7 linked regions of the Homo sapiens genome follow. The protein of the gene in region 1 interacts with the protein of each later gene in a biochemical or structural test. Each region holds a gene or a part of one and is shown in the gene's direction. Other genes may lie near its edges. The genes, in order: PTPRB, NTRK1, NSF, GAB1, LCK, PXN and PDGFRB.

The links.
Region 2: of the proteins of PTPRB (region 1) and NTRK1, one has a biochemical effect on the other in vitro, tested with the Homo sapiens proteins (one large-scale study listed by IntAct).
Region 3: of the proteins of PTPRB (region 1) and NSF, one has a biochemical effect on the other in vitro, tested with the Homo sapiens proteins (one large-scale study listed by IntAct).
Region 4: of the proteins of PTPRB (region 1) and GAB1, one has a biochemical effect on the other in vitro, tested with the Homo sapiens proteins (one large-scale study listed by IntAct).
Region 5: of the proteins of PTPRB (region 1) and LCK, one has a biochemical effect on the other in vitro, tested with the Homo sapiens proteins (one large-scale study listed by IntAct).
Region 6: of the proteins of PTPRB (region 1) and PXN, one has a biochemical effect on the other in vitro, tested with the Homo sapiens proteins (one large-scale study listed by IntAct).
Region 7: of the proteins of PTPRB (region 1) and PDGFRB, one has a biochemical effect on the other in vitro, tested with the Homo sapiens proteins (one large-scale study listed by IntAct).

Annotation. Positions count from the first base shown.
Region 1 is NC_000012.12:70,515,430-70,518,929, reverse strand, and holds the end of PTPRB (receptor-type tyrosine-protein phosphatase beta), read left to right. Parts: 3' UTR 1-3,060; downstream 3,061-3,500. UniProt on the Homo sapiens protein: Plays an important role in blood vessel remodeling and angiogenesis. Not necessary for the initial formation of blood vessels, but is essential for their maintenance and remodeling. Can induce dephosphorylation of TEK/TIE2, CDH5/VE-cadherin and KDR/VEGFR-2.
Region 2 is NC_000001.11:156,870,865-156,874,364, forward strand, and holds part of NTRK1 (high affinity nerve growth factor receptor isoform 2 precursor), read left to right. Parts: intron 1-758; coding exon 759-891; intron 892-2,768; coding exon 2,769-3,095; intron 3,096-3,500. UniProt on the Homo sapiens protein: Receptor tyrosine kinase involved in the development and the maturation of the central and peripheral nervous systems through regulation of proliferation, differentiation and survival of sympathetic and nervous neurons.
Region 3 is NC_000017.11:46,593,669-46,597,168, forward strand, and holds part of NSF (vesicle-fusing ATPase), read left to right. Parts: intron 1-3,500.
Region 4 is NC_000004.12:143,469,376-143,472,875, forward strand, and holds part of GAB1 (GRB2-associated-binding protein 1), read left to right. Parts: 3' UTR 1-3,500. UniProt on the Homo sapiens protein: Adapter protein that plays a role in intracellular signaling cascades triggered by activated receptor-type kinases. Plays a role in FGFR1 signaling. Probably involved in signaling by the epidermal growth factor receptor (EGFR) and the insulin receptor (INSR).
Region 5 is NC_000001.11:32,278,765-32,282,264, forward strand, and holds part of LCK (tyrosine-protein kinase Lck), read left to right. Parts: intron 1-906; coding exon 907-983; intron 984-1,076; coding exon 1,077-1,230; intron 1,231-1,314; coding exon 1,315-1,446; intron 1,447-3,500. UniProt on the Homo sapiens protein: Non-receptor tyrosine-protein kinase that plays an essential role in the selection and maturation of developing T-cells in the thymus and in the function of mature T-cells. Plays a key role in T-cell antigen receptor (TCR)-linked signal transduction pathways.
Region 6 is NC_000012.12:120,220,731-120,224,230, reverse strand, and holds part of PXN (paxillin), read left to right. Parts: coding exon 1-80; exon of another isoform or gene 81-397; coding exon 398-513; exon of another isoform or gene 514-1,231; coding exon 1,232-1,368; exon of another isoform or gene 1,369-1,480; coding exon 1,481-1,682; exon of another isoform or gene 1,683-2,472; coding exon 2,473-2,608; exon of another isoform or gene 2,609-2,916; intron 2,917-3,305; exon of another isoform or gene 3,306-3,500. UniProt on the Homo sapiens protein: Cytoskeletal protein involved in actin-membrane attachment at sites of cell adhesion to the extracellular matrix (focal adhesion). Recruits other proteins such as TRIM15 to focal adhesion.
Region 7 is NC_000005.10:150,131,846-150,135,345, reverse strand, and holds part of PDGFRB (platelet-derived growth factor receptor beta isoform 1 precursor), read left to right. Parts: intron 1-329; coding exon 330-596; coding exon of another isoform or gene 597-630; intron 631-1,337; coding exon 1,338-1,465; intron 1,466-1,585; coding exon 1,586-1,760; intron 1,761-2,403; coding exon 2,404-2,596; intron 2,597-3,251; coding exon 3,252-3,367; intron 3,368-3,500. UniProt on the Homo sapiens protein: Tyrosine-protein kinase that acts as a cell-surface receptor for homodimeric PDGFB and PDGFD and for heterodimers formed by PDGFA and PDGFB, and plays an essential role in the regulation of embryonic development, cell proliferation, survival, differentiation, chemotaxis and migration.

The DNA of each region.
Region 1 (3,500 bases):
TCTTGGTAAACACTCCATTTCCTGTCTTGGTGGGCATCCTGTCTGTGTACCTGTGCAGTACACTTTAATCATCAAGACTTCAAAGTGCTTTTGAGCTATCAAATCTTGGGAGAGTCCCATCTAGCATCTTAATAATTATTTTTCCAAGTTCGTTATAATTAACTCCTTTAACCTCATCTCATTAAATCAATTTTGTATTGTCATTCTGTTGTTCTCTGGAAAGCAGCCAATTGTTCAGCTCTTGAATCAGAATTTTCAAAGACTCACCTCTCTTACCTGGGCTTGCACATATTTGTCCTAAGTAATTCTCTATCCCTTAAACCTCTGAGTCCCTCTGTTTTATTACTTGCCCCACTCCTCCTACTTGAATATGTTTGTTTTCCCAGTTGAATGTGATTTTTATCTACTGTTCATATTATCTTTTATACCCATGAGTATAATTTCATAGTCCTTTCAGGTTCCACATCATCAAAGAGATGACCATAATTTCACTTTTTTTTGAAATGAAGTCTTGCTCTGTTGCCCAGGCTGGAGTGCAGTGGCACAATCTCAGCTCACTACAACCTCCGCCTCCCAGGTTCAAGCGATTCTGCCTTAGCCTCCCAAGTAGCTGGAATTACAGGTGCCTGCCACCATGTCTGGCTAATTTTTGTGTTTTTAGTAGAGATGGGGTTTCACCATGTTGGCCAGGCTGGTCTTGAACTCGTGACCTTAGGTGATCCACCCACCTCAACCTCCCAAAGTGCTAGGATTACAAGAGTGAGCCACCGCACCTGGCCAATTCACTTTTAAATACTAAAAGGCACACAGCACACAGACATTTTCGGGGCAGTTTTCTTTGGGAGGGTCTTTGATAAATTTTGTAATCACCTCTCGGAAGAAAGCCCAAAATGACATGTGAAAATAATATTAAACCATTTACCAGATGTCCAGCAATATAAAAATAGACCTCACATGCTACCCTTCACATGCTGATTCTCTTGCCTTGCTGTTTAAGGATCCAGTTTCTTATGTTAAACATTTTCCTTACCTTTTGCAATAATATTATTGGCCATATACTAAATTCTCATTCACTTAGCTTTCTAAGAATTCTTTGAGGTTGGAATCCTGAAATCATAAAGCTACCAGATCTGCACAACAGCAGTGGTAGTATCTGAGCCCAAACTCTGAGACGCTCTAGAGTTTTAGTTTACAAACATGAGCCAGACCAAACCTGACCTGGTGAAAATCAATAGGTAATAAACTGCTTGTATATGATAGCAGTTCAAGGGCTTTCTGGGTTCCATTTCACTGAGGAAATGAAAATATAACTGATTAGCCAAGACAGAGTGGCAATAAGGAATAACTGATCCTCCTCCAAGTTGCAGTGAGCAAGCCCTCAAGCCTACCTCATTCCTGAAGAGTTGAAGGAGAAAATGCCGTGCTAATTTTCTGCCCTGCTATTTTTAACCTGAAATTTAGAATTACATCAGGTATTCAAAGAATGTTCCCTATCAAAGGAAAATCTGTAAACGATGACTGCAAAAAGCAAGTGAAATGATGCAAAGAGAAAATATTTGCAAAACAGAATCTAACCAGACATCATCATGAAGATAAAATGGCATCTCTTCTGTGTGGCCTGGGTGTGCTTGGACAATCCTGTCACACGTTTCTATTAGGACATGTTGCCCTTTTGAGGATTCACTCTATGTTGGCCAGATGGTTTAACTGATTAAACAATTGAATCAATTTATTTTGCTTTTTGAATTGACCAGATATTTAACTAAATGTACTGGGTTTGGCATTTTAGACACACTGCCTTAGATTCTTGTAGTGCATGATGACTTTGAAAATGTTTGGCCATTTTAGTTAAAATGCAGGGTAACATTTGATGCAGCCATGATAACAGGAAAAATCTGTTCTGTTCTAAAAATGTTTCTAGCAATAGAAGTATTTCTGGCTAAGAGAATACTCTTGACTTGTAGGGAGGCTCCCTCGGAATAAATGTATGCAACACAAATAAGGCATTTTATTTTTTAAAAGATTGTCTATATAAGATACACTTATTAAATAAAGAAATTGTTGGTGAATGCTCTGAAAATAGAGGCTTATGTAATGGAAATAAGAGATTAACAGGTTTACCAAAGATTATTTTTATAACCTCTATGCCAATTCACATGATCTTATATAAGACACCAAAATAAGTTATTCAAAACTGTGAATAATGTCAGACAAATGCAATGTGTCCCTTCTAGAACAGTCACAAAAAGAATTGGTTATAGCTATTTTAATAAATAATATCCTCACCCCAAGAACAAACGTTCAGTTATGCTGAGATGTTCTAATAGCTGTGTGCGTAGATAAGCACCTCCATCAAGAAAGGAACACATGAAATTGTGGCTTTAAGAGTTTGTGGCAGAGTTGGACAGCATTCCATCTGCAGGTTAGTAGGAAAGCCTGTACCAGCCTTTGTGGAATGTCCTAGTCTGCCACACTGACAAGAGGGTGCACCAGTGCTCTACTGGAAGAGTATTTCTGGTTTTCTATGCAGGACTATTGGGCTTATAAATTCCTCAAGAACAAGGACCAAGTCTTTAATCTCGTCTCGACTCCTACCTTGTGGAAATTAGTGCACAGCTCATAGACATTCTACACACACTTCTTGAAATTGCTCCTGGCCTGATATTTTGGATGTTAGGTAGTCAGTGTCCAATAATACTGTTGTCCGTGCAGGTTAATCTAGCCATTCCTTCATTTGTGTGAAGCATAAATAATGTAAGTAAATACAGCAACTGAACTTTTTATGTTCTATAATAGAGCACTTTTATGTTTTTAATATCATTTATTATTTCTCTGAAAATCCAGTTAAGATGGCAGATGATTCTATTTTTTCATATTATAGCATCTACCCACAATATTTCTAACTAACTGTATTTGAACAAAGAACTTCCTTAGTCTTTCAATTTAAATTATGTATTTGCTTAATACATTTTTATATTTGTAACTGTGGTAAAAAAAAAATCTATATAGCATCTTGCATACATTCTCACTAGTACAGGAATAAAACTGCAGTTTGTTGAAGGAGAGTGCTCTGTCTTCTATTCACCTGCTCCTCATTTATCAATTTTTGTCATCTGTCTGTTCAGGAGAAAGGCCAAAAGTGACTGCTTTAAAATGAGAAAAATCTTCCAGGACATTATCATGAAGAATATAGTTGTCTTAACCTTTAGTCCTGTAAGTACTGAGTTGGTTACCTACAGTATTGTGTACATAATAATAGACTCTCCAGCTGACCGTCTCCAACTAAATTCCTGTTTTCAGTTCTTTACTTCATTAATAACCAAAATGTCATCTGTTACCAACAGTGTTGGTGTACTCTCAGAGGTACTGCCCTGGCTAGATTTCCACTGAGCCCTTCAGAGACACTTCACACATTTGCGGACAGTGTGGCATTTGGTAAAGAGACGCCATGACTATTTCCAGAGTTATGAGTTTGCCCTTTTGCCTTTTTCATATTTTAG
Region 2 (3,500 bases), on another chromosome or scaffold:
TCCACGGTTTCCTAGGAAGAGAAACTTGATCTGATTCAATCCTGACGATGATTCAGAATCAAGTCACTTTGCCTGTCTAACCTCACCCATGGTCCTCATCTGCTGCAGGAGGCGATGCCGCTGCTGTTGTTTCTAACTGCTGCTGTGCTATTTGCACCATCTCTTTGTTTCTGATCTTCCTTGGGCTGAGACTCAGTTTGTTAGAACTGTGTGTAAAACAGGAATGAATAGGCAGTGAGGTCCTAGTGGGGTCTCCAACGAGCTGTGTACAAATTTGGTACTTGGGATGCGTGACATCTGTTTAGCTGCTCAGATGGCTGGTTTTAGTTTCAGTTTGGGATATTTTGTGCCTATTTTGAGGCTACTGGTTAGATTTTAGATTTTTCAGATAATTAAATACGTGATCCAGGCTGGGCGCAGTGGCTCACGCCTGTAATCCCAATACTTTGGGAGGCCGAGGTGAGAGGATTGCTTGAGGCCCTGTTCAAGACCAGCCTGGGCAGGACAGTAAGACCCCGTCGCTACAAAAATAAAACATAAAATAAAAAAAAAATGTGATCCAGGAGATAGTCAACGAACAAACCTAAAGGAGGAAGGCCATTATCTGCTACATTCTCTCCCACCCCTCTCTCCCTTCTCTTCCCTCCCAGCCCTCCTCTCCTTTCCATCTGGAGCCAGAGGGGCTCTCCAAAGACTTCAGCCCCAGCCCCAAGCTGGCTAAAGCTCCTTCTTATTCCCCCCTCTCTTTCCTGATCTAGAAATCTGGGGGTCTGCCATCCCTGGGGCTGACCCTGGCCAATGTCACCAGTGACCTCAACAGGAAGAACGTGACGTGCTGGGCAGAGAACGATGTGGGCCGGGCAGAGGTCTCTGTTCAGGTCAACGTCTCCTGTGAGTCTCAGTGGCAGCTCCGGCACCCACCCCCTACTCATCTCTTCTTCCCTCAAAAGAGGATGTAGGGTGGGGGGCTGGAAGAAAGGGTGGGATGTGTGTCTCCACAGCTGCTCCCTCCCAGCTGTTTCCAGATTCCCATGAAAACCTGATCCTTTGGGGGAAGTCCTGGGGTCTTGTCAAGGCCAGAGGGATGGAGATGGATTTCTTTCTGGCCCCCTGCCCGAGCCTTGCTACCTGAGGCCCTCAACGCCAGATGCCCGGCTGTTCCCACTGCTCCGAAGTATTTTTTCATGCCCGTCCCTCATCGGGTCCTTCTCCCCGCATCCTAGTTTCAAAAGAGGAAATTCTCCTCCTGAGTTCCTCTTTACGCTCGCTGCCTAATTTCTCTAGATCAGCCAACAAATTATCTTAAATATTCTACTTTACATCAGTTTTCTTCTTTTATTGTGAAATATACATAGAAATGTGCAAAAAATATATATATTTTAAACAATAATTACTCTTACCAGCATCACGGAAGATCCCCCACCACCCAACACCTCTCCCTGTTCGCAATCCCATCCCACTCTCCCATCTCATGTTGACTTTTGTCAGGATAACCATTTCCTTGCTTTTAAAAATAATTTTTCTCAAATATGCTTTCCTATCGGTATCATTTAGTTTTGCCTGTTCTTGTACATTATATAAATGGAATCATACTGCGTGTATTATTTTGTATCTGGTTTCTTTCATTCAACATTATATTTATAAGATTCATTCATGTTAATGGGAGTTGCTATATGTAGCTCATGCAATTCATTGCTAAATAGTATTCCTATGTATGAATGCTATATTATATATATATATACATATATTTATGCATACATACACTTTTTTTCTATCATTGAGGGGCTTTTACTTTTACCAGATTGGGTCTATTTCTTTTTTTTTTTTTTGAGATGGAGTCTCGCTCTGTCACCCAGGCTGGAGTGCAGTGGCGCGCTCTCGGCTCACTTCAAGCTCCGCCTCCCAGGTTCACGTCATTCTCCTGCTTCAGCCTCCTGAGTATCTGGGACTACAGGCGCCCTCCACCACGCCCAGCTAATTTTTTGTATTTTTTTAGTGGAGACGGGGTTTCACCGTGTTAGCCAGGATGGTCTCGATCTCCTGACCTCGTGATCCGCCCGCCTCGGCCTCCCAAAGTATTGGAATTACAGGCGTGAGCCACCGCGCCTGGCCCAGATTGGGTCTATTTCAAACGCATATCTTTTTTCAAAAAGAGTGTGTGTGTGTGTGTGTGTGTGTGTGTGTGTGTGTGTGTGTGTTTGAAGAGATGGGGTCTCAGCCTGTTGCCCAGGCTGGAATGCTTTGGGATCATAACTCACTGCAGCCTTGAACTCCTGGCCTCAAGCGATCCTCCCACCTCAGCCCCCTGAGTAGCTGGGATTACAGGAGCAAGTCACTGTGCCTGGCTTTTCCCCAAAAATTTAACTGTATATATTTTTGGCTGGTTTGATTGTTAGGGCCCCTGACCCATCTTCTTCAGCTTGGTTACACTGACTTCTTCTAGATTCCTTATCCCAAAGACTCCATGTTTAATTGTCATAAGCTGATACCCCACTCCTGTGGGGCTGTGACTTATTTATGGCCCACCACTTATGTTCTTTAAGCCTCTAAATTTTATATGCCTGCTGCCTGATTTATTTAAAATGTATTGTCAACTTTCTTCAAAACATCTCTCCTTGGTGAATTTCCCAGGGCCTGCTGACCTGTTTCTCCCAGGCCTGCCCTTTGATTTCGGGTTCTACTCGCTTTGCCCGTGGACTTGTCGGGTGTGTGCCAGGCTCCCTCCAGCTGCGCCCTGACCTCCTGCTGTTGCTCTTTCTGGCCCACAGTCCCGGCCAGTGTGCAGCTGCACACGGCGGTGGAGATGCACCACTGGTGCATCCCCTTCTCTGTGGATGGGCAGCCGGCACCGTCTCTGCGCTGGCTCTTCAATGGCTCCGTGCTCAATGAGACCAGCTTCATCTTCACTGAGTTCCTGGAGCCGGCAGCCAATGAGACCGTGCGGCACGGGTGTCTGCGCCTCAACCAGCCCACCCACGTCAACAACGGCAACTACACGCTGCTGGCTGCCAACCCCTTCGGCCAGGCCTCCGCCTCCATCATGGCTGCCTTCATGGACAACCCTTTCGAGTTCAACCCCGAGGACCCCATCCCTGGTGCGAGGGCCATCCTGAACCCTGCCCCCACTCCTGGGCTCCTCCTGGGTTACAGCCAACTTCCTGCTATAGCCCTGACCCCAGAAATTGGAGTGCCTGGTTCGGGACAGAAAGGAGTCTGGAGTCCTGGTGTCCCGCTGTTCTGGCCTCCTTACCCTCTCCCCAAGCCAGGACTCCTGAACTCCTGAGCTATTCCGTCCTTGTCGGCTGGCTGAGGAGACAGCCATGCAGCAGGGCATCCTGGCCCAGCTGGAAAAGGGTCACATGCATCTTCTTCCTTGAGGCCCAGCAGCCCACCTCCATCCCCCCTCGTCCCATGAAGGAATGAGTCCCAGAGTAGGCAGGGGACTCACTGCTTTCCTCCTCCCTCTGACTGCTTTCTCTCCTCCCTCTGACTGCTTTCTC
Region 3 (3,500 bases), on another chromosome or scaffold:
TGTGGTTCTGCTCCTGCTTCTTTCCACTCATTCTCTTACTCTGTGTGCTCAGGTTATATGGTAAACGAGCCTTTCAATTCCTTGAACCTGTAGTTTCTCTTACCACAAGGTCTTTGCGAGTGGTGTTTCCTTTCTTTGTAACGTTCTTCCCCCCAACCATTTACCTCCTACTCAGACATCACTTAGCTACTCAAGGGAGGCCTACTCTGACCCCACATTATAAGTCAGGATCCTTTGTTATATACTCTTGAAGAACTGTATTCCTCTCCTTAGAGATTTATCTTTTTGTTACTTTGAGTGTGTGTTATTATTTGCTTCTACCACTTCACCTCAGTGAAAAGCAGAGAACATACAAGTTATTTAGTCATTATCAACTGCGCTTTGTGTACCTTGTGGGACTTAGGTACTCAATACATTTTTGTTGAAAATGAATCAGTCTCTGAACACTCTGGTGATAGATGGTATATTACCCTAAAGCTTGCCTGTAATGTCATACAGCTATGTTAGGTCTTTGTTATCTGGAGTTCCATGTAACTTTTATACGTAGTTACTATTTCTGCTGTTTCAAGCCATACGGAACTAAACACAATTCTTTTTCCATGTAATAGCTACTCAAGCTACTCATTTACTTGAATACAGGTTACATATCTCCTCAGATTTTCGATTTTGCAAGTTAAACATCCCCCAATTCCTAGCATATTTCATATTCCAAACCCTTCATCATTTAGGCTACCTTCCTCTGGAAGTAACCTAATGTTACTGTTTTGTCAACCTTTCTTCTAAAATGTGCCCAGAGTGGAACACAGTGATCAGAGAAGAATGTACTTAAGCTATTATTGTCTTGAGATGGACACTACCATTATTCATACCAGATAAAATTGTATTAGCGTTTTTTCTATAGTAAATCACATTCTTGGCTCATACTGAGCTTGTAGTCAGTGAAAACTCATGTTCTTTTAAAATCAGCTCCCTAGCTCCATTCTAGGTTTAGAGCAGTTTTATTGAACCTAAATCAAGACCTTATCCTTTTACAATTCATTTTTTTAGGTCAGTGCATGTCTGCTGTTTGTTGAGGTAATCTGGATTCTTAGTTCTTTCATGTTAGGAAACATAATAGCTGTCTCTTCCAGTTTGGTTAGATCTGTAGGTTTAATCATGACTTCTGTTTCTACGTTTGAGTTATTGGTAAAGGATAGAATAAGACAGGGTCAGAAATAACCCTTGGACATGCTGCCAGTGACATGCCTCTAGACTGATACCCATTAATACACTTGGGCACTGTTGCTTAAATACAGATGTGTCTCATTTAATTCCAACAAAACAACCTGCAAAGTAGGTAGTATTATCTTTGTTTTTTTGCAGAGAGAAAGAGAGAGAGATTTAGTAACTTGAGAAGTTCACATAGCCAGCAAGAAGCAGGGTCAAGATTTGAACTCAGATCAGCCTGGTACTGTTACCTAGTTCACCAGCTTAGTTGCAAGAGTGTAGTAAAGACTAGGTTTACCTCACCTAGAACTTTTTGGACATAATAATGTTCAGAAACTATCTTCTACCTTTTGGAAAATCTGAAAAACTTTGGCCCATCTGATTGTCTATCATTTCTTCTGATAGCCTTTATTTTCTAGTAACTACTGAGTGATTTTTAGCAAAAATAGTTCACCTTGTTGCAATACTTTTATTTGTGCATATTTATGGAGTACATGAAAATTTTTTTACATGTGTATAATGTGTAGTGATCAAGTCAGGGTACATGAGTCCAATGTATTAAGTATAGTCATCTACTCAGCTATCAAACATTGAATTTATTCCTCCTATCACTGGATCTTTTTTTTTTTTTTTTGAGACGGAGTCTTGCTCCGTCACCCAGGCTGGAGTGCAGTGGTGTTATCTTGGCCTCACTGCAACCTCTGCCTCCCGGGTTCAAGCGATTCTCCCGCCTCAGCCTCCTGAGTAGCTAGGATTACAGGCATGTGCCACCACGCCCAGCTAATTTTTGTATTTTTAGTAGAGACAGGGTTTTACCACATTGGTCAGGATGGTCTTGGACTCCTGACCTGGTGATCCACCCGCCTTGGCCTCCCAAAGTGCTGAGATTACAAGTATGAGCCACCGCGACTGACCTCATTGGATCTTTTTACCTTTTAACCCACTTCTCTTCAGCCTTTCTCTCCCTTACTCCGCCTTCCCAGTCTCTGTTATCTATTTTTCCACTCCCTGCCTCCTTGTGTTCAAATTTTGTAGCTCCTACATATATGTGAAAGCATGCAATATTTGTCTTTTTGTGCCTGGCTTATTTCACTTAAGAGAATAACCTCCAGTTCCATCCACATTGCTGCAAATGATATGATTTCATTCTTTTTATGGCTGAATAGTATTCCATTGTGTACATGTATGACATCTTCTTTATCCATTCATCTGTAGATGGACACTTAGGTGGTTGATTCCATATTTTTGCTATTGTGATAGTACTGCAATAAACATGCAAGTGCAGCTATCCCTTTGATACATTGATTTCTTTTCCTTTGTGTAGATACCCAGTAGTGGGATTGCTGGATGGAAGGTAATTCTATTTTTAGCTTTGAGAAATCTCCATACAGTGTTCCTTAGTGGTTGTACTAGTTTACATTCCCACCGACAGTGTATGTGAGAGTTCCCTTTTCTCTGCATCCTTACTAACATCTGTTACTTTTTGTCTTTTTAATAATAGCCATTCTGACTGGGGTAAGATGATATCTCATTGTGGTTTTGATGTGCATTTCTCTGATAGTGGTGTGGAACATTTTTCCATGTCTTCTTTTGGCCATTGTATGTCTTCTTTTTTAATGGGATTATTTGTTATTTTCCTTTTGAGTTGTTCGAGTTCCTTGTATGTTCTGGATATCAGTCCTCTGCTTGATGAATACTTTGCAAATATTTTCTCCCATTCAACAGGTTGTCTCTTCATTCTGTTGATTATTCTTTTGCTGTGCAGAAGCTTTTTAGTTTGCTTAAGTCCCATTTGTTTAGTTTTCTTTATGTTACCTGGGCTTTTGATGTCTTAATCATAAATTCTTTGCTTACACCAATGTCCAGGAGTGTTTTCCCTAGACTTTCTTGTAGTATTTTTATAGTTTTGGGTCTTAAAATCTTCAATCCATTTTGAGTTGATTTTTGTATATGGTGAGAGATAGGGGTCTAGTTTCACACTTCTGCATGAAGTTATGCAATTTTCCCAGCATCATTTATTGAAGACAGTGTCCTTTCCTTAGTGTGAGTTCTTGTCAGTGTTGTTGAAGATCATTTGTCTATAATTATGTGGTTTTATTTCTGGATTCTCTATTCTGTTCCATTGGTCTACATGTCTATTTTTATACCAATACCATGCTGTTTTGGTTACTATAGCTTTATAATATATTTTGAAGTCAGATAATGTGATGTCTGCAGCTTTGTTCTTTTTGCCCAGGTTTGGTTTGGTTGTTTGGGCTTTTTTCTTTTTCCTTTTTTGGTCCCATATGAATCAC
Region 4 (3,500 bases), on another chromosome or scaffold:
TAACATGTAAATAATGTGGGAAAATAGTATTGTTTAGCTCCCAGAGAAACATTTGTTCCACAGTTAACACACTCGTAGTATTACTGTATTTATGCACTTTTTCATCTAAAACATTGTTCTGGGTTTTCCCAATGTACCTTACCATAATTCCTTTGGGAGTTCTTGTTTTTTGTCACACTACTTTATATAACAATACTAAGTCAACTAAGCTACTTTTAGATTTGGAAATTGCTGTTTACAGTCTAACAACATTAAAATGAGAGGTAGATTCACAAGTTAGCTTTCTACCTGAAGCTTCAGGTGATAACCATTAGCTTATACTTGGACTCATCATTTGTTGCCTTCCAAAATGCTGAGGATAATGTATGTACTGGTGTCAGGACCTAGTTCTCTGGTTAATGTACATTTAGTTTTTAATGGTGGAACTTTGTTATATTTTGTTAATTACAGTGTTTTTGGTTCATTGAGTGAAGATTCTGCCGGGTGGGATCTTGCACCTTTGAAAGACTGAATAATTACACTACCAAGTAAGCCTGCAAATCATTGATGGCATGCAGTGATGATGTGCTCTTACACTTGTTAACATGTATTAAGTGTTATTTGCAAAAGGTAGATTATGTAACCAATCAGGTACGTACCAGGCAGTGATGTGCTAATACACTGATCAGGTTTAGACAATGAGCTTTGGTTGTGTTCTTGTTAGTCCTAATATTGGTTTTCAGTTTGGAATTAATAAAGCAGTTGACATTCACTGTTAGTTACAGCAACATACTGTGATTTTTAATTAGATAGTAATTCAGATTTATTACTCTATGAAATTCTGTCTTTTGACACCATAGTGCCCTTTCTATGATTTTTTTTACTTAATATTCTTCTTGGCCTTATATTTAATTCCCTATGCAATTAATATTTTATATCTGCATTTTTTTAAAAAAAATAGATGTTATATAAGTGATTCTCGTATGTAGCACCTGTTGCTTTTCCACTGAAAGAATTACGGATTTTGTACTGTGATTTATATTCACTGCCCCAATTCAAGAAATATTGGAGCCTTGCTACAATGTGAAATGTTATAGTCATGGACTCCTTCCAACCAGATTTCTGAAAACACCAGAGGGATGGTATAATTCTGTCTCACCTATAACATGGTCCTGTGACATAGATATTAAGACCACAAGTTGTAGTGAGGCTACAATTATATTCGTCTGTCTTGGCTTTGCAACATAATTTAGAAAGCACGTATAGTTGTTTTTTAACCAAGTTACATACAATCTCATGTACTGATTTGAGACTTATAACAATTTTTGGAGGGGGCATAGAGAAAGGAGTGCCCACAGTTGAGGCATGACCCCCTCCATTCAGACCTCTAACTGTTGCCTGAGTACACAGATGTGCCCTGATTTCTGGCCCATTGGCCATAGTACTGTGCCTAATCAATGTAATAGGTTTATTTTCCCAATCCTCAAACTAAAAATGTTCATAACAAGATGAATTGTAGACTAGTAACATTTGATGCTTTTAAATATTTGCTTCTTTTTAAACAAAAACTAAAACCCAGAAGTGAATTTTTAGGTGGATTTTTAAATAAAAAAGATTGATTGAGTTTGGTGTGCAAGCTGTTTTATAATGAAACAACAAAATGAAATCTAAAATCCTGAAATGTGCCTAAACTATCAAAACACACGATACAGCTAATGTGTAAAGATGCTAAATTCTGTTACTTGGAGGATGAATATATTTAAGATTTAAAACACAATAATAAATACATGATTAATTCAAAAATAAAAATCTTTACAGCTGCCTATCAAGGGTCTAAAGCACTTAATGAATGTTTTTAGTCTAACTTATCATTAACTTTTTACAAGTCACCATATTTGAAGATCTGTAGCACTCTGATTTTCAGAAAATTTTTCATTCTGAATAATTTAAAAATGGTGATGTATTAGAAAGGCAGTTTGCTTTAGAAAACTAAATCACATTGAACATTGTATTAGAGAATTAAATTAAAAGTTTCTTACAGAGCAGTATTTTCCAAACATTTTTAGCACTAGAATCTTTTTAGATGAAATTTTATGTATAACCCCAATACATAAAGCCTGAAAACTCAATTTTATCAATATAAATGTATTTTGGGTTCACATTTATGCTTATTCATTTTGGCTCATTACTAAGCATAATAAGATTCTGAGTTATTTCTGAATAACACAAATGTGGAGTTATACATAGTTGATGAAACCAGCAGCCAATTTATAGCTATGCCCTGTTTTATTTGTATACTATCAAGAAAATTTTGATTCACACAAATGTAAGCAAAAATAATAGGTTTTAAACATACATCTCAGGAAATTCTTTAATTAGAGATAGCTAAAGTTATTCAAGGTCTATACAAAAATAAGTTATCCTGGTAGTGGAAGTTAATACATAAGCAGTCTCCAGTGTGGTAAAGTAGGGTATGTAACACATCAGAATGTGCGTTTTTATTAGGTTTTAAAATATGCACGTATAAAAACTAAATTTGAATCAAACCCTTTTAACTCACCTCCAAGAAGCTAGACTTTGGCCAGGAATGGGCTAAAAACCACTGGTTAACGATGTGACAGTTATGATCTTGGAGATTGGAAATCTTTCTTCCACATTAGAGTTCTTTACCTTAATTCCTTATTCTGAAAAATTGTAAGATTTTATGAAGGTTTGAATACTGAAGCACAGTTCTGCTTTCAAAAATTAAAATTCAAACTTGAAAAAGCTGTTTAACCCATGGAAGATATCATTTAGTAAGATGTAAAAGATTTTTTAAATCTACACTTCAGTTTATACATCTTTATCATTATCAATACTATATAAGTTACTGTGAGCATTTTAGAGAATTCCATAAAGGTACTATGAGTGTGTCTGTATGTGTGTGTATATATAGCATTGTATTTAATCATAGACTAAATTTAATTTGATATAGAAATACTACTTTACTTGTACATTAAGGTCATAATTTCTGCTGGACTCTTTTATATTTAATTAATGGGGATTATAGTCTTCCTTCATAAATGCATTTAAACCTGAAATTGAACACCAGTGTTTTTCTTTTTCTACTTATGGGAAGTTGTCTGCTTCCCCCTTTAGAGAAAACAGTATTTTTATATTTTGTTAAAATATTAACTACTTTATGCCTACACACTATGCTGTAGATACTGATCATAATTCTTGGGTGTTCACAAACACTCCTAGTGCCTCTTTTTTGGCCCGTTGAAAGTGTTGGTATTACTACTTTCACTACAGAGCCTTTGGCCCTCTAATAATGCTGAGGTGGGCTGATCCTTCCCATTTCTGTCTTCGGGTCATTCTGGTAGGTCTTCTCCTCCACTGTCAAGTAAGCAATCAGGTCCGTGACAGGGATTGGACATATGAACAAATTAAGTGGATACACACAGTGAGAAAGATACATGCATTCTATGGTAACAACTACTGTCAATAACATCTGATGTTACATGCACATTTATATATAT
Region 5 (3,500 bases), on another chromosome or scaffold:
ATATCTATGTCTATGTATTTGCTGTGTGTAGGTGAGGTCTTTGTCTTTGGTAACTAGTTCAGCACTCAAAGTGGGGACACTCAGGTTGCTGTCATCCTTTTACAGGGTTTTAATCTCTTGGGAAGGGCCATTGGTCACTCACTGCATCCTAGCAACTCCCATCCATGTCCAGCTGCCCTCCACTATTAGAGAGGTGGTCCCTCAGACCCCCAGACCCCCTCTTTCTTATTCCATCCAATATATTCAGCACATAGTTATTGTTTCTTACTCTCGGCTGGGCACCAGGAACATGGATGGATGAAACAAGGTTCCTGTTGTCAGGGAAACCTGATTTTAGTTACAGCTACTGGGGAAACCAGAGTTTGTGCCATGGGAAAGTTCCAGCATGCCCATGGGAGTGTAGATGATGATCCAGTTTATTATGCCTGGTAGGATCTAGAGAGGCTTCCTAGTGGGGCAGTCTAGCAGGGCCACGAAAGAAAAGTAGAATTTTTTTTAGCAGGCAGAGATGAAACAAAGAGGCTTTGGGGTGAGAGCCTAGTGGTCTGAGTGCAGGATCTCAAAATTGCTAAACTGTTTGAAGTCAAAGGCAGAGTGGGGGAAAGAGAAGAAGCTACCAGTGTGGACCATGCCAAGCTTAGGATACTAGTTGAGGATTCTAGGTTCTACCTTATTGGTGATGAAAAACCTACAGATCCCTCCCAGCATGCTCTACCCTAGCCCCTCTGCAAAAAAACCTTTACATATCCTGGGCATCCTTACCCTGAACACACACTCCTCCATTCTCACTCTTCAATCTTCCTTTTCACATGTCAGACACACTTCTAGACTCCCAGTTGGAGGAGAAAGGTCTGGGGGCCTCCCCCTGGGGCAACTTGGGCCAGCAACTCTTGCTTCTGCCCACAGGGAGTCTAGTGGATTTTCTCAAGACCCCTTCAGGCATCAAGTTGACCATCAACAAACTCCTGGACATGGCAGCCCAAGTAAGGAGACTGGGGAGGGGGGCTGGGCAAGGGAACAGACCAGTGACGTGAAGACATCTGGCTCAGGACCGCTGATCTGTGTTTGGCCTGCAGATTGCAGAAGGCATGGCATTCATTGAAGAGCGGAATTATATTCATCGTGACCTTCGGGCTGCCAACATTCTGGTGTCTGACACCCTGAGCTGCAAGATTGCAGACTTTGGCCTAGCACGCCTCATTGAGGACAACGAGTACACAGCCAGGGAGGGTACGTGTGAGATTTAAGGGTGGTCTGGGCCCTGCAGGGTCTGGCCAAGCAGACCCAGGTGACCTCACTCTGCCTCCTCCTTAGGGGCCAAGTTTCCCATTAAGTGGACAGCGCCAGAAGCCATTAACTACGGGACATTCACCATCAAGTCAGATGTGTGGTCTTTTGGGATCCTGCTGACGGAAATTGTCACCCACGGCCGCATCCCTTACCCAGGTTAGAGCCAAGGGCAGGAACTGAAAGGGTGATGGGAAGGGCAAGTCCATGTCTTCCCATTCAATTCTTTCCAGTCTCAGAATCTGAAACTTTGTAGCTGCATCTCCTCTATCTTCTCAGGGGTATGAGTCCAACGTCCCCAGGCAGATGCCACATCTCCCAGGGCTGGCTTCCATCTCCGTATCTCTCTTTAATAACCCCAGCTCTTTTCTTTTTCTCTTTTTTTCTTTTTCTTTTTTTTTTTTTTTTTTTTTTTTTTTTTTGAGACGGAGTCTTGCTCTGTCTCCCAGGCTGGGGTGCAGTGGCGCCATCTTGGATCACTGCAACCTCTGCCTCCTGGGTTCAAGTGATTCTCCTGCCTCAGCCTCCCAAATAGCTAGGATTACAGGTACGTGCCACCATGCGCAGCTAATTTTTTGTATTTTTAGTAGAGACAGGGTTTCACCATGTTAGCCAGGATGGCCTCAATCTCCTGACCTCGTGATTGGCCTGCCTCGGCCTCCCAGTGTTGGGATTACAGGCGTGAGCCACCACACCCGGCCCCAGCTCTTTTCTTTAGTTCTGGCCCAGGCAGCCTGGTATGGTAGAAGAAGATCTAGCTCAGGAACAAGAGGCCTACCTTTTATCAGCAGATCTGCCACTGTTGCTAACTTTCTGTTTGGCTTTGTTCAGATCATTACTGTAACTAGTGAAGCTAGTCACTTCACTTCTCTAAGCCTCAGTTTCCTGATACTAAAAATAAGAGACTAGGCCAGGTACAGTGGCTTATGCCTATAATCTCAGAACTTTGGGAGACCAAGGTGGGAGGACTGCTTGAGCCCAGGAGTTCGAGACCAGCCTGGGAAACTGGTCGAAACCCCATCTCTACAAAAACAAAAGTTAGCCAGGTTTGGTGGCATGTGCCTCTAGTCCCAGCTACTCAGAAGGCTGAGGTGGGAGGATCACCTGAGCCAGGGAGGCAGAGGTTGCAGTGAGCCAAGACCATGCCATAACACTCCAGCCTAGGGCAATAGACCAAGACCCTGTCTCAAAACAAGAAAAAGAGAGACTCCATCTCTACAAAAAAAAAAAAACAAACAAACAAAAAAAACATTTAAAAATTAGCTGGGCATGGTGGCACACACCCGTAGTTTCAGCTATTTGGGAGGCTGAGGTGGGAGGATCATTTGAGCCCAGGAGGTTGAGGGTGCAGTGAGCCATGATTGTTCTATTGCACTCCAGCCTGAGCAACAGAGAGAGAATTTGTCTCAAAAAAAAAAAAAAAGAAAAAGAAAAAGAAAAAAGAAAAAATGAGAGACCATTTGTGAAAGAGCCTGACTCATAGTAGGTTGTCAGTATACACTGACTCCTCCCACCATCTCCTGGACAAAGCCCTTTACCCCTGAATTCAGCCAAGACAGGGATGGAATTTTTGAAAGGAACTTGCTAAGAAACTCTGGGGAAAGGAAATGGAGCATAAAGACAGGAGTAGGGGGGTCATGCGGCACAGTGGCTAGATTTGTAGAAGCTTCCCATATCCCCAGAGCAAGGTGAACAGACCTTTGCTCCAAGGAAGGTAAAGACACCTTGGAAGGCCGGATGCAGTGGCTCACACCTGTAATACCAGCACTTTGGGAGGCCGAGGCGGGTGGATCACAAGGTCAGGTGTTCGAGACCAGCCTGACCAACATGGTGAAACCCCGTCTCTACTAAAAAAAATATATATAAAAATTATCTGGGCATGGTGGCACGCGCCTGTAACCCTAGATACTCAGGAGGCTGAGGCAGGAGAATTGCTTGAACCCAGGAGGCAGAGGTTGCAGTGAGCTGAGATCATGCCACCGCACTCCAGCCTGGGTGACAAAGTGAGACTCTGTTTCAAAACAAAAACAAAAACAACCACCTTGGAAACAGGTGAAAAGCTGAGGGGCTTCCCTGCCCTGGGCTTGCCCCAAACCAGCGTCCAGGGGTAGTGCTGGAGCTGGAAATACAGAAATATTCTCCAGTTATCCTGCCAGGGGTCCTCACTGCTCCTTCCCGGTTCCCACAGAGGCAAACCCATAGGGAATGTATCT
Region 6 (3,500 bases), about 50 Mb from region 1:
CCAGCGAGGCCCTCAATGGCACAATCCTTGACCCCTTAGACCAGTGGCAGCCCAGCAGCTCCCGATTCATCCACCAGCAGGTGAGGCGGGGACAGTGGCTGGGAAGGCCAAGGAGGCTGGGGGACAGAGGGAACTTAGCTGGCAGGGGCTTAGGGAGCCAGGGGATGGAATGGAATTGGGGCAGTCGACCCTTCCCAACCAGACACTGCTCTTCCCACTCACCACGTGAGTGGAACAGTGACCAAGTGGTTAATCACAGGTTTCCTGGCCCAACTGTGGAAATTCCCTGGTGAGACTGGCTGTGGGCAGGAGCCTCCTGGGGGTGACTGGAGCTGCTCCTGGCCCCTGTTCCTTTTTCTCCCCTCGGGGTAGCCTCTGAGCATTCTCCTTCTCGCAGCCTCAGTCCTCATCACCTGTGTACGGCTCCAGTGCCAAAACTTCCAGTGTCTCCAACCCTCAGGACAGTGTTGGCTCTCCGTGCTCCCGAGTGGGTGAGGAGGAGCACGTCTACAGGTACTGCCCCAGTCTGCCCAGGGCACCTTCCCTCCTGCTTAGAAATCTCAGGGACCTGGCCAGGGTGGGAGGCAGCGGAGGCCCGGGAGCAGGCATAGCAACTGGGCCTTGTGGGGTTATTCTGGTTTAAGCTGCAGAAGGCCTGTCGGTGGGCCCGTCTACCTCATCAGTGCCATCTCCATGCAGTGGACATTCTGGGCTATCACAGCATCTCCGTGTAGCTGAGGAACTGAAGCAAGACTTCATTCCTCCCCTCTTCTTTTTTTCTTTTTTTTTGAGACGGGGTCTCGCTCTGTCACTCTGTCGCCCAGGCTGGAGTGCAGTCGCGCGATCTCGGCTCACTGCAAGCTCCGCCTCCTGGGTTCACGCCATTCTCCTGCCTCAGCCTCCCAAGTAGCTGGGACTACAGGCACCCACCACCACGCCTGGCTAATTTTTAGTAGAGACGGGGTTTCACCGTGTTAGCCAGGATGGTCTCAATCTCCTGACCTCATGATCTGCCCGCCTCAGCCTCCCAAAGTGCTGGGATTACAGGCGTGAGCCACTGTGCCCGGCCTCCTCCCCTCTTCTTACCACATCCCTTCCCTACCCTCTGTCCTCTTGCGGGGGAAGACTTCGCATCTCCTCTGCCTTGTTCTCCTTGGGAATCTGGGAACTGCCAAGCCAGTACAAGGCCAGAAAGCATCTCTCACTATCTTCTTTCCTTTGCCTCTCAAAGCTTCCCCAACAAGCAGAAATCAGCTGAGCCTTCACCCACCGTAATGAGCACGTCCCTGGGCAGCAACCTTTCTGAACTCGACCGCCTGCTGCTGGAACTGAACGCTGTACAGCATAACCCGCCAGGCTTCCCTGCAGGTAGGACCGGGTCCCTGGGGCAGGGTCTACCAGGGCCCAGGGCCCATCTGCTGACCTCTAGATCCCAGGAGGGCTCAAGGGCTGAGCAGCCTTTTTCTCTCCTCTCTGCAAGATGAGGCCAACTCAAGCCCCCCGCTTCCTGGGGCCCTGAGCCCCCTCTATGGTGTCCCAGAGACTAACAGCCCCTTGGGAGGCAAAGCTGGGCCCCTGACGAAAGAGAAGCCTAAGCGGAATGGGGGCCGGGGCCTGGAGGACGTGCGGCCCAGTGTGGAGAGTCTCTTGGATGAACTGGAGAGCTCCGTGCCCAGCCCCGTGTGAGTACCCACTGGGCCCTCCCCAGGTGGGGAAGGGCTGGCCCAGCCTGCCCCGGGTCCAGTGTCTGTCCCCTTAGCCCTGGTATCACCCACTCCCTCCCGTGTCTGCCATTTGCCAGGCACTGGGGGGATAGTGGTGAGTCACATGGACACCATCCCTGCCTTCAGCCAGTCACTGCCAGTCAGAAAGGACAGACGTTGTGCAGGCTGAGGGCGCCTGGAGCTTAGCAGCTCTTAGCACAGGCTTTGGGGCCACACAGTGGGGTTCACATCTTGGCTCTGACAGTTACTGTCAGCTCTCAAGCCTTAGTTTTCCCATCTGTAAAATGGGACAAGAACTTATGGGATCACTGGGATAAGACCACCTACCTCAGTAAGGGTGAGAACCAGTAATCCATGTAAAGCGCTTGGAATGGTTTCTGGTGTGTAGTGCGTGGCACACATGGTGAGTGCCCAACACGCGAGCTCTTACCAGTGCCGTCGTGTTACTGCAGTAGCCTCACCTCCATGTCCAGTGTTGTGGAGGAAACACAGGGCGCTTGGGCTTGTTTCGCAGGCCAGCTTTCACTTGGGCTGGGGGCTAGAGGAGTCTTCCTGGCACTTCCTGGTGCCATTGAACTGCCCTTTCTTCTGACCCAGTGATGGGTCCCCAGGAGAGACAGGGAGCTGGTGGACCTCCCTGGGGTTGGGGATGGTGAGACCCCAGTGTCCGAGGTGAGAGGTCGATCTGATCCCCGGGAAGTGTGGGGCTGACTGTGGGCTCCCCACTGATGCTGTGCCCACCCTGCAGCCCTGCCATCACTGTGAACCAGGGCGAGATGAGCAGCCCGCAGCGCGTCACCTCCACCCAACAGCAGACACGCATCTCGGCCTCCTCTGCCACCAGGGAGCTGGACGAGCTGATGGCTTCGCTGTCGGATTTCAAGGTGCCCTGTGAACCCTCCATCTTCCCTGCCCTGCCGCCCCTCCCTCATCCTTCTCCTCCCTTACCTCAGTGTGGGTAGCTGGATCTTGGCATCTCAGTGTTTGGGTGCCTTGCCCCTGAGCCAGGGACACTGTCATGCCCTGGCCTTGCTGTGATGCCAGGAGATGGGGAGGGAGGGCCGGGTCAGCCTGCCTGAGGATTGCAGTAGCCAGTGAAGGCAGACAAGCTGGAGAAGTGCTCAGCTGGGACATTCCTTCCTCCCTGGGTGCTCCCAGCCTCTCAGGTCGAGGGGATCAGGAGGCTGGGACGCTGGGACAAAGAACCTTGTGTTGATGGCTGCTCTGGGTGGGGGAGGGCATTCTCTGCTGGGCCATGTGGGACTTGGGAGCCTGTGCCTGGGAGGTCATTTGCCCTGGAGCCCCATCTCCCACGCTAGCTGTCCTCAACACATCCTCTTTCTTTCTGCCTCTGATCCTGAATCCACAAGCCTCCCTTGCTACTCTTCTCCCATCCTTCCCTCTCGCCCTCCAGGGCCTCTGAGTTCCCACGAGCGTGTCTGTGGGAAACCATGGGGCCAGGCTTGCACGAGGTACCTGCCCTTCCCCTCCCCTGCTGGGCCTCCCCAGTCCTGCCAGGCCTGAGATGTTTAATTTAGAGGATTCAGTGTTTCCTTGGGGATTGATATTGACAGAACTCACCAGCAGCTGCTGACTTCATACTTCCACGTGGGTCAGCTGGAGACCTTTGGGGCATGACCTAGGGAATATGAGAGGGGAGTGAACGGTCCCTGCACCCTTGGCCCTGATGGTGTCTCCTAGCCTCCCTTCAGCTGAGGTTTCATGGTGGGAGACAGGAGTGTGGCTGGGGTGGAGGGTTGAGCCTGGCCCTGTGAC
Region 7 (3,500 bases), on another chromosome or scaffold:
TCCTGCCTCCCAAGAACTCTATATTCTCAGCTGCTTCCAATCTGCTCCCTCTTGACCCCACATCCCTTCTTCCCCATTCTCCAAGCTCCAGATATCAGCTGCATTTCAACTTGTGACTTGCCTTCTTTCTTACCCTGGCACTGTCAATATCAAACATTAGAGCTGGAAGGGACCAGCTCTAACATTTGATTTATGCTCTTCTGGGAGCATCCCTATTCTGTAACGGGGAGACAGAGGGCCAGAGATGGCAAATGACTTGCCACACAGCAATTCAGGGGATGGCCAGAAACCCAGTTCCCCTGATTTATTCACGGCTCCACTCCTGGCAGATCCCACCGTGGGCTTCCTCCCTAATGATGCCGAGGAACTATTCATCTTTCTCACGGAAATAACTGAGATCACCATTCCATGCCGAGTAACAGACCCACAGCTGGTGGTGACACTGCACGAGAAGAAAGGGGACGTTGCACTGCCTGTCCCCTATGATCACCAACGTGGCTTTTCTGGTATCTTTGAGGACAGAAGCTACATCTGCAAAACCACCATTGGGGACAGGGAGGTGGATTCTGATGCCTACTATGTCTACAGACTCCAGGGTGAGCCCCCTTTCTGGCCTGATGCTCAGCAGAGGCAAGTATAACCCTCCACAGAGGAATAGCCCTTTACAGTTTACAAAGTGTGGGACTCCACTTCCCAGTGGATTCTCACCACAGCCTTCGAAGGAAGATAGTGTTTTCCCCATGTTACAGAAGAGGGAAACTCAGGCGCAGAGAGAGGATGGAGCTTGTCCCCTGTCGCAGAATTCGATAGTGGCAGAGCTGGCCTGTGCAACATGGTCGGTGAGGGCACAAGCTTCAGAGCCAGCTGGGTCGAAATCCCAGCTTTGCTATTTCCTGTCTGAGTGACTTTACACAAAGCACATAATCTCTCTGAGCCTGCTTCCCCTCTTGTAACGTGGGGATAACAATGGCTGCCTACCTCATAGGATCAATTGTGAAGATTAAATAAAAGATGGAGAGTACCTGGCACATGTTATGTGCTCAATACATTTCTCCTGTACATAGATCTCCAGAGGGTACTTTGATTTCCAGACTGTTATCCCTTCTAGAACGTCAGCTCCATAAGAACAGAGATTTTGTCCACTTTGTTCACTACTGTTGCTCCAGTGTCCAGAATAGTACTTGGCATGTAGTAGGTATTCAGTAAATATTTGTTGAATGAATGAATCTTCTACATCAGTCATCCTTTCCCTCTCTAGCCCCCTACCCTATCCCCAAGCTGAAGTGCTAGTGGCTGGTGGTGACTTCCCCAGACCTAAGCCAATCTCTCTCTACCAGTGTCATCCATCAACGTCTCTGTGAACGCAGTGCAGACTGTGGTCCGCCAGGGTGAGAACATCACCCTCATGTGCATTGTGATCGGGAATGAGGTGGTCAACTTCGAGTGGACATACCCCCGCAAAGAAGTAATGTGGGGCCAGGCAGGGGTCGGAGGAGGGGCCAGGAACGGGTGGATATCTGGCTTGCAGGCTGATTTCTCCCCGGCCCCTCCTGATTTGGGGGGCCTGCCCAACCTGTTGCTGCAGAGTGGGCGGCTGGTGGAGCCGGTGACTGACTTCCTCTTGGATATGCCTTACCACATCCGCTCCATCCTGCACATCCCCAGTGCCGAGTTAGAAGACTCGGGGACCTACACCTGCAATGTGACGGAGAGTGTGAATGACCATCAGGATGAAAAGGCCATCAACATCACCGTGGTTGGTGTGTGCCTTGGGCTCAGCCCAATCCCCAATTCCTTCAACGCTCCCCACCCTCACCCACTTTGCTGGGTGCAGAGTGATGGTGAGAGTTGCATTTTTGATACAGTGATCAGGGCTGAGCTGGACCCAGTGCCTGTCACAGCCCCGGGGTATAGTCAGCCACACTCCAGTGCAGCCCTAGCTAGCCTCTGTGCCAACCAAAACCCCAATTCCAGGATAAACCCCAAACCAAAATGTAGTGTCAGCCCCAAATCCAACCCTATCTCAACCTAGACTTTCTGACTAGCCAGAGCCCCAGCCCCAACCTGACTTCCAAGCCCAACTGCCATCCCAGGTCCGGGAAGCCCCATCCCCAAATTCAACCTTATCACTAGTCCCAGCATCAGCCACAGTACTGACCCAGAACAGAGAACTGTTAGTACAACTCTGTTCCCAACCTGGGAGCTGGCCCCAGCATCCATATTAGCCCCAAATTCGGCCCCTTCTCCAGGCCCTGTCCCCAGCCCAATTTCAACCTCAGCTCCGGAAACTCCATGGCTGGCACGGTCCCCAGGCCTGAAGCCCCACCCCACAGGCTGGCCTCCTTTGGGATTCAGTTGGTGCCCTGCCCCCAGGGCCCCGCCCCTGACGGTCACCCCTTGCAGAGAGCGGCTACGTGCGGCTCCTGGGAGAGGTGGGCACACTACAATTTGCTGAGCTGCATCGGAGCCGGACACTGCAGGTAGTGTTCGAGGCCTACCCACCGCCCACTGTCCTGTGGTTCAAAGACAACCGCACCCTGGGCGACTCCAGCGCTGGCGAAATCGCCCTGTCCACGCGCAACGTGTCGGAGACCCGGTGAGCAGCTCGCTCTCCCATCCCATTCTTGAAGTTATTTTTCTTTGCAGCCGCCAGGCAGCCCTCGGCTTTCAGCCACAAACCTAGGCCCAGCTTTCTGAGAGCATATTAGGTGCCAGGTGCTGGGGATGCTGCAGCGACCAGAGCTGACAGTTCATCCCTCCTAGAGTTTCTAGTCTAGTGGAGGAAACAGTCGCCGGTCAGATGATCACCCAGATGTTTAGTTGTCCTTGTGATGGGTGGGGCCAGCAGTAGCAGCCAAGAAGTAAACGGGCAGATGACTGGGGAAGAGGGTGCCAGGCAGGCCACTCATGGCCTGTGGTATCCCTGAGGCTGGAGATTTGCTGGCTGACAGAGACTGTGGTAGGTTAGGATGGAGCAGTGTCCACCTTTCTGAAGGGGAGAGAAATAGGACTTTCCTTCAATGCTCCCCACCCCCACCCACAGTTCATCTCAACCCTCCCTCTTGGCCTAGGGGAACTGCCTGTGGGTGAGGATTTACGAGACCTGGTTTGAGTCCCGGCTCTGCTACCAATGCCGAGATGACCTTGGCAAGCCCTTCCCCTCCCTGGGCCTTGTTCCTCTTTATACCAGGAGGGTGGGGAGAACTGTAAGAGTCCTTCCGACTCTGACAGCTGCCTTTCCTGCTCCCCAGGTATGTGTCAGAGCTGACACTGGTTCGCGTGAAGGTGGCAGAGGCTGGCCACTACACCATGCGGGCCTTCCATGAGGATGCTGAGGTCCAGCTCTCCTTCCAGCTACAGATCAATGGTGATGAGCACGCCCCTCGCCATGTCCCTGCTCCTTCCCCTCCCTGCCCCCGTTCCCTCTCCCTTCCTGCACTGTCCACCCACCCATGGGAGGAGTGGGAGAGGGAGCCTGGAACTCAGGAGATGGATTCTAG